Regions from separate parts of the Homo sapiens genome. Here region 1 is reported to be linked to region 2. The links are microRNA targets in miRTarBase. Many come from high-throughput screens and were not tested one by one. Region 2 holds a microRNA gene; the other region holds the end of a gene's coding sequence.
The links. Region 2 holds the annotated microRNA hsa-miR-1273c (GGCGACAAAACGAGACCCUGUC, at 2,150-2,171, shown strand). A microRNA usually pairs through its seed, bases 2 to 8, with sites in the 3' UTR of a target mRNA and lowers its output. Matches are read on the target gene's strand: a 7mer-m8 pairs with bases 2 to 8, a 7mer-A1 pairs with bases 2 to 7 and ends in A, and an 8mer does both.

Region 1: the mRNA of MBL2 is a reported target of hsa-miR-1273c. The part of its 3' UTR that is shown has no 7-base or 8-base seed match.

The regions. Positions count from the first base shown.
Region 1 is chr10:52,764,437-52,768,436 of GRCh38, reverse strand. It overlaps MBL2 (mannose binding lectin 2), which reads left to right. Exons shown (of 5, transcript NM_001378373.1): 5 at 1-3,057. The coding sequence ends at 300. Among named protein-coding and RNA genes, the nearest start is that of MBL2, 6.3 kb to the left of the region's middle.
Region 2 is chr6:154,851,220-154,855,983 of GRCh38, forward strand. It overlaps MIR1273C (microRNA 1273c), which reads left to right and starts at 2,141; the gene lies at 2,141-2,217.

The sequences.
Region 1 (4,000 bases), not on the chromosome of region 2:
AAAGTGAAGGCCTTGTGTGTCAAGTTCCAGGCCTCTGTGGCCACCCCCAGGAATGCTGCAGAGAATGGAGCCATTCAGAATCTCATCAAGGAGGAAGCCTTCCTGGGCATCACTGATGAGAAGACAGAAGGGCAGTTTGTGGATCTGACAGGAAATAGACTGACCTACACAAACTGGAACGAGGGTGAACCCAACAATGCTGGTTCTGATGAAGATTGTGTATTGCTACTGAAAAATGGCCAGTGGAATGACGTCCCCTGCTCCACCTCCCATCTGGCCGTCTGTGAGTTCCCTATCTGAAGGGTCATATCACTCAGGCCCTCCTTGTCTTTTTACTGCAACCCACAGGCCCACAGTATGCTTGAAAAGATAAATTATATCAATTTCCTCATATCCAGTATTGTTCCTTTTGTGGGCAATCACTAAAAATGATCACTAACAGCACCAACAAAGCAATAATAGTAGTAGTAGTAGTTAGCAGCAGCAGTAGTAGTCATGCTAATTATATAATATTTTTAATATATACTATGAGGCCCTATCTTTTGCATCCTACATTAATTATCTAGTTTAATTAATCTGTAATGCTTTCGATAGTGTTAACTTGCTGCAGTATGAAAATAAGACGGATTTATTTTTCCATTTACAACAAACACCTGTGCTCTGTTGAGCCTTCCTTTCTGTTTGGGTAGAGGGCTCCCCTAATGACATCACCACAGTTTAATACCACAGCTTTTTACCAAGTTTCAGGTATTAAGAAAATCTATTTTGTAACTTTCTCTATGAACTCTGTTTTCTTTCTAATGAGATATTAAACCATGTAAAGAACATAAATAACAAATCTCAAGCAAACAGCTTCACAAATTCTCACACACATACATACCTATATACTCACTTTCTAGATTAAGATATGGGACATTTTTGACTCCCTAGAAGCCCCGTTATAACTCCTCCTAGTACTAACTCCTAGGAAAATACTATTCTGACCTCCATGACTGCACAGTAATTTCGTCTGTTTATAAACATTGTATAGTTGGAATCATATTGTGTGTAATGTTGTATGTCTTGTTTACTCAGAATTAAGTCTGTGAGATTCATTCATGTCATGTGTACAAAAGTTTCATCCTTTTCATTGCCATGTAGGGTTCCCTTATATTAATATTCCTCAGTTCATCCATTCTATTGTTAATAGGCACTTAAGTGGCTTCCAATTTTTGGCCATGAGGAAGAGAACCCACGAACATTCCTGGACTTGTCTTTTGGTGGACATGGTGCACTAATTTCACTACCTATCCAGGAGTGGAACTGGTAGAGGATGAGGAAAGCATGTATTCAGCTTTAGTAGATATTACCAGTTTTCCTAAGTGATTGTATGAATTTATGCTCCTACCGGCAATGTGTGGCAGTCCTAGATGCTCTATGTGCTTGTAAAAAGTCAATGTTTTCAGTTCTCTTGATTTTCATTATTCCTGTGGATGTAAAGTGATATTTCCCCATGGTTTTAATCTGTATTTCCCCAACATGTAATAAGGTTGAACACTTTTTTATATGCTTATTGGGCACTTGGGTATCTTCTTTTGTGAAGTACCCGTTCACATTTTTGTATTTTGTTTAAATTAGTTAGCCAATATTTTTCTTACTGATTTTTAAGTTATTTTTACATTCTGAATATGTCCTTTTTAATGTGTATTACAAATATTTTGCTAGTTTTTGACTTGCTCCTAATGTTGAATTTTGATGAACAAAATTTCCTAATTTTGAGAAAGTCTTATTTATTCATATTTTCTTTCAAAATTAGTGCTTTTTGTGTCATGTTTAAGAAATTTTTGCCCATCCCAAAATCATAAGATATTTTTCATGATTTTGAAACCATGAAGAGATTTTTCATGATTTTGAAATCATGAAGATATTTTTCCATTTTTTTCTAATAGTTTTATTAATAAACATTCTATCTATTCCTGGTAGAATAGATATCCACTTGAGACAGCACTATGTAGGAAAGACCATTTTTCCTCCACTGAACTAGGGTGGTGCATTTTTGTAAGTTAGGTAACTGTATGTGTGTGTGTCTGTTTCTGGGCTGTCTATTCTAGTCTATTTGTTGATGCTTGTGTCAAACAGTACACTATCTTAATTATTGTACATTTATAGTTGTAACTATAGTCCAGCTTTGTTCTTCTTAAAGTCAAGATTTCCATATAAATATTAGAAACAGCTTCTCAATTTCTACAAAATCCTGATGAGGTTTCTACTGGGACCACATTGAGTCTATCAATCAACTTATGCAGAACTGGCAACTTACTACTGAATCTCTAATCAATGTTCATCATGTATCGCTTCATGTAACTAGAATTTCTTTAACTTAATTGCTATGTTTTGACATTTTTAGTTTAAAAACCTTGTATATCTTGTTTTGGTGGTTTTAGTGATTTTAATAATATATTTTAAATATTTTTTCTTTTCTATTGTTGTACACAGAAATACAGTTAAGTTTTGTGTGTAGTCTTACGATGTTTAGTAAACTCAATAAGTTTATTTCTTAAATCTAGTAATTTGTAGATTCCTCTGGATTTTGTATATGCATAGTCATGTAAGCTGAAAATATGGCAATACTTGCTTCTTCCCAATTGCTTTACCTTTTTTCTTACCTTATTGCACTGGTTAGCAACCCCAATACAGAGACCACCAGATCAGGTATAGACTCCTGAAAGACAATATAATGAAGTGCTCCAGTCAGGCCTATCTAAACTGGATTCACAGCTCTGTCACTTAATTGCTACATGATCTAGAGCCAGTTACTTTGTGTTTCAGCCATGTATTTGCAGCTGAGAGAAAATAATCATTCTTATTTCATGAAAATTGTGGGGATGATGAAATAAGTTAACACCTTTAAAGTGTGTAGTAAAGTATCAGGATACTATATTTTAGGTCTTAATACACACAGTTATGCCGCTAGATACATGCTTTTTAATGAGATAATGTGATATTATACATAACACATATCGATTTTTAAAAATTAAATCAACCTTGCTTTGATGGAATAAACTCCATTTAGTCACATTTTATCTTGTGTATGTATTATTGGAGTGGACTTGTTAATAGTTTGTTTAGAACGTTTGCACCTATGTTCATGAGAGATACTAGCTTTTTTTCCCCTCCTTAATGCACTTGCTATGGTTTGGGGTCAATGTTATGTAAGCCTCATTAAAATGAGCTGTGATGTGCTCTCATGCTCCTTATTATCTAAAATAATTTGTGTAAAATTATACTTTAATGTTAGATAAATTCACCAGTGAAGCCATCTTGGAATGGTGTTTTCTGTTGGGAAATGATTTTAATTTCAGATTTAATTTCCTCATGATCTAAACCTATTCATGTTTTCTGTCTTTTGTTCGGTTTCAGTGAGTTATATTTTTCAATGAATGTGTCAATTTCCTCTGAATATATATGTATTGGCATAAAATTGTTACAATATCTTTGTATTTCTTTTCAATATAAGTAGGATCTATAGCAATGTCTATGTATCTGTTATGATTATTTGCATTTTATCTTTATTTTATTGTATTTTTTTTTGAGATGGAGTCTCACTCTGTCACCCAGGCTGGAGTGGCTGGAGTACAGTGGCACGATCTTGGCTCACTGCAATCTCTGCCTCCCAGGTTCAAGAGATTCTCCTGCCTCAGCCTCCCAGGTAGCTGGGATTACAGATGCCCACCACCATTCCTGGCTAATTTTTTTAATTTTTTGTGGAGACGAGGTTTCGCCATGCTGGCTAGGCTGGTCTCAAACCCCTGACCTGAGGTGATCTACCTGCCTCAGCCTCCCAAAGTGCTGGGATTACAGGCATGAGCCACTGTGCTTGGCCCATCTCTTTTTTTCTTAATCAATCTTGCAAAGGATTTGTCCATTTTATTAAATTTTTCCAAAAACTTCTTTTTGGTGTTTACTAACCTCTATGATTACATTTATTTATATCTGTTCCTGTCTTTATCATTTCTTGTAT
Region 2 (4,764 bases):
TGGTCAGGCTGGTCTTGAACTCCCGACCTCAGGTGATCCGCCTGCCTCGGCCTTCCAAAGTGCTGGGATTACAGGCGTGAACCACCGCGCCCAGCCTTCCTGTATTTTTTTAAAACTCTCTCTCTTCACTGACACCAGGTGTTGCTATTAATGTGCTCAAATCTCTCACTTATAAAAAAGAATAAAACCTCTCTCTTTTCTAGTTACTGGTCTGTTTATTCTTTTGTAGAATGATCTTTGGGAAGAGTGTTTTCATTTATCCCAGTCTCTTCATCTTTTATTCCTTAGTGCACTGTCGTTGACTTTTGACCCCACCAATCCATTGAAATTTCTTTCCAAAGTCACTAGTGATCTATTGACCAAATCTAGCAGCCATTTTCATTGCTTATCTTACTTGATAGCACCACAGATTTAATGTTAGTGACTACTTTCTTGAAACTACTCCCTTGACTTTGCAGACCACTCTCCTGTGCCCATCGTCAGTGTTTCTTTTTTGAATTCTACAACTTCCCATGTGGTTCCATCTGTTCACACATGTTCATGCCCACATGAGCTCACTTAGGACCAACATACCAGTGAGTACACCATTGATACTCAGGTCTGCCTGACTTTCTACCTAGATAGCTTATAAGTATCTCAGGCTTAATCTCTATATTTTCTCTTCCTAATTCCCGCCAAAAATGTTTTCTCTTTTCCCAGTGGTTGACATTCCCATTCTTTCCATCTCCCAAGTTAGAGACTAGGAAACTATTCTCTTTTGCTCTCATCCCTTAGTAACAAAGTGGTTAGGATTTTTACTCACTAAACATAACTGAAATTTGCATTTCCATTGCCTTTGCCTTGGTTCAGTCCTGTTTTTTGCGGGGGACGGAATTTCGCTCTTGTTGCCCAGGCTAGAGTGCAGTGGCATGATCTTGGCTCACTGCAACCTTTGCCTTCCAGTTTCAAACGATTCTCCTGCCTCAGCCTCCCAAGTAGCTGGGATTACAGGCGCATGCCACCATGCCCAGCTAATTTTTGTATTTTTAGTAGAGATAGGGTTTCACCATGTTGGCCAGGCTGGTCTCGAACTCCTGACCTCGTGATCTGCCCACCTTGGCCTCCCAAAGTGTTGGATTACAGGCGTGAGCCACTACGCCCGGCCTTGATTCAGTCCTTCGTTGACAGTTCCAGTGGCTTCAAAACTATCTTCCAGGCTCAACACTGACAAACACAACTTCTGCAATGCTTACCAGAGTAATTTTTCCAGAATTTTCCTAGGTGAAGAGAGAGCGTAGCATCTGGAGCTTACGTTGCCAGAGTTTGAATTGAGGGCAAATCATTTTTCTTTTTGGTGCTTCAGAATTCTCAGTGGGAATGAACATGTTAGTACCAATTTTATAAGGTTGATGTAGAGTTAAGTGACTGAGTACATGTAAAGCTCTTGAAACAGTTTCTGGGTAAATAATGTTAGCTGCTATTAGTTTATACGATCATTAATGTTGTAATACACATCTGAACACACCTACCAAAAGTTCTTCATTTCTGTGGTAACCTACCAAATAAAATTTAAACTGCTTATTCTGACTTGCTGGACTCATCATGACCTAACTCTGTTTACTTTTCCAGTTTCTTATCTGATCTCTGCTGTAAATACGATGTGTTTCAGCAATTTGATACCCTTAGCAGTTCCTCCAGAGTGCTTTTACTGCTTGACTGTTTCTTCTCCCTGAAATGCTGTCCCCATCTATACCGTATAGACTCCTACTTGTTGACCTGTTTGCTTTTTTGATTTTAAGCAAATGAGCTCTTTGAGGACAGAGATCTTATTAATGCTTATGTCTGACTCATAGTACACATTTAGTAAAAATTTGTTGAAAGCATAAATGAACATTTAAAAAACGAGAAGAGACTGGGCACAGTACACTCCCAGCACTTTGGGAGGCTGAGGTAGGAAGATTGCTTAAGCCCAGGAGATCGAGACCAGCCTGAGCAACAACGTAAGACTCCATCTCTACAAAAAACCTAAAAATATTAGCCAGGTATGGTGGTGTGCCCTGGTGGTTCCAGCTACTTGGGAAGCTGAGGTAGGCAGATCACTTGAAGATCAGTTGAGCCCAGGAGGTCAAGGCTTCAGTGAGCTATGTTCACGCCTCTGCACTGCAGCCTGGGCGACAAAACGAGACCCTGTCTTTTTTTTTTTCTGAGACAGAGTCTCGTTCTGTTGCCCAAGCTGGAGTGCATGATCTCACCTCTCTGCAACCTCCGCCTCAGTACCAAGTAGCTGGGACCACAGGTGCTTGCCACCATGCCTGGCTAATTTTTTTTTTCTTTTTTTCTCTGAAGACGGGGTTTCACCATGTTGGCCAGACTGGTCTTGAACTCCTGACCTCAGGTTATCCACCTGCCTTGGCCTCCCGAAGTGCTGGGATTACAGGCGTGAGCCACTGCACCCAGCCCAAGACCCTGTCTTCAAAACAAAACCTAGAAGAATCAAACCACTGAAATCTGGAAAAATTAGTTACTTGCTACACAAAGCCTTGCACCAGCAACTTCAGCATCACTTGGAAGCTTATGATGCTCAGAATCTTAGGCTCCATCCCAGAGTCACCGAATCAGGATCTGCGTTTTTAAAAGATCCTCAAGTGATTCATAGGTGTGATAAAATTTAGTTGTAGTTCATTTATCTTTTCCCCAACAAACACAAGTTTTCATATATTCGAAGTCTTATTTTTGATGTTACTATAGATTAAAAGAATTTTGTAAATAAGCTTAGTGACAAGAAAAGTGAAACAAATTTAAAAATAGCAGTTAAACTGAATAATGATTTTGTTTCCTCCTAAGACAACAGTTAGCAGAAGTCATATGTACAGTTGTTTCTGAAGGTGAGATCATTTTTTAACTAGAGCTGCTCCATGGTGTATTTAAGAGTTTTATTTGATACCATCTCTGGTAATATTAGAGCCTTGAGAGCATGTCTCATATGAATATTTTTATTTTGCCTATAGATTGAATTTCATGAAATGTTGAGGTGGAAGTCTGTGGATTAGGACTGAGGGAATACCTTCTTTGGTTCTTTCTGATTTTTTGACAGGCTTCCCTAAGTTTGTCCTAGGCCTCACTCTACCTTAGTAGATACTGGCAATGTGCCCATTAGGAGAGAATAGAATTCAGTAAAATGTGAAAGGTTTTTAAAAAGTGTCATTGATAAATAAGATGAAAAGATTGGAAACCATCAAAGCTTTATTACTTAAAAGTTAACGTAGGCACTATGTTCAGCTCAAGTACCTTAAGAGGTATGTCTTCGTGCTTACACATCAACATACAGAGGTTAATGTTGTTATATGGCACAACTTTTGTGTAGGAAATGTTTCAGTCACAGTATTAAAGTTTCTATTAAAATATTTCTAAAAATATGGGAAATGTGACATTTTAAATTAATGGGCCTGAAAAAAATAGCTTAAAGTTAAATGTTTTTATCGGATTATAAGAGTTCCAAGTTTCTTTCTAGATTATTTGAAATAGTTTACAAAATGCTATTTTAAACAGACTTTCAACCTGTTTCAAAACTCAAATATAGATGCCTGAGGGTTGAGAGAAAGAGAGTGTGTTACCACATGTTTATCATTGGAATGTAGAAACAAATTCATACTCAATTCAGCAAATACTTATTGAATAATATATATATTTCAGATGCCTTGATAAAAATTGGTGACAGTAGGTAATTGAGAAAGATATTACGTTATTGACAGAACACAGTTCCTGCCTTCAAGGAGTTTACCTTTTAGTGAGAAACAACCAGTAAATTCTATTTCAATATAATGTATGAATTGCTGTAACAGATTGGGTACGTAAGATACAGCTAGAACATAGAGAAAGGATGCTAGTTGCTAGATTTTCATTAGAAGATGCATTTTTGTTTCAGCAAATTAACTTCCTAAGTCTCAATATCCTCATCTATAAAACTAGAAATAAAAAGTACCTGGAAGACTCATTTTGAGGGTCAAATGAAAATACATGTGCAGTGCTTAGTACAATACATAAAACAGACTGCATAATAAATGTTGACTGCTGCTAATACTTAGTGGCCATTACTTAGGAAATCTTTCCTTCTGTCTTTGTGATTTCTGCTTCCCTTTCTTCTTTATTTATTTATTTTATTTTTAATATTCGTAGCCCTAGTCCATGGATTTGAAGGAAACATTGCTAAAATCATGGAGGTAAAATTTAGGTTTCTTTGGACATTTCTTTTCTCCTATTGTCCCTTCCCTGCCCACCCAACATGAATAACCCTAGTCTCCTCTTTAACTTTTGAAAGTTTCCGGAACAGTAATGGTAGGGTCCTTTTACAGCATGATGTCACGTGTTACTCAAGACTTGTACTGTCCAGTATGGTAGCCTTTAGTCACCTATTGCTATTTAAATTTATAAAAAATTAAAAATTCAGTTCCTCAGTCACACCAGTCACACTTAAATGCTCAACAGCCACATTAGCTAGTGCCTACCAAATTGAGCGGCACAAGTACAGAACATTTCCAGGAGGTCCTATTTTATAGCGTTACTCTAGAAGAGCAATTGCTGATAACATAGGCTGTTTACCTTAATTAAAATTATATGATTCAGAATTCTCTGTCCCAAACTATATTTAAATTTTTTTTTTTTTTTAATTCTCACTTCTGGTTAGTTTCCATTAAGGAGTTACCATGCTTCACAATGCTGATTCTTATTTTTATAAATATAAACTCTACATTGGTATTTCAATTTGTGTTTTAAGTCTTACTAAAA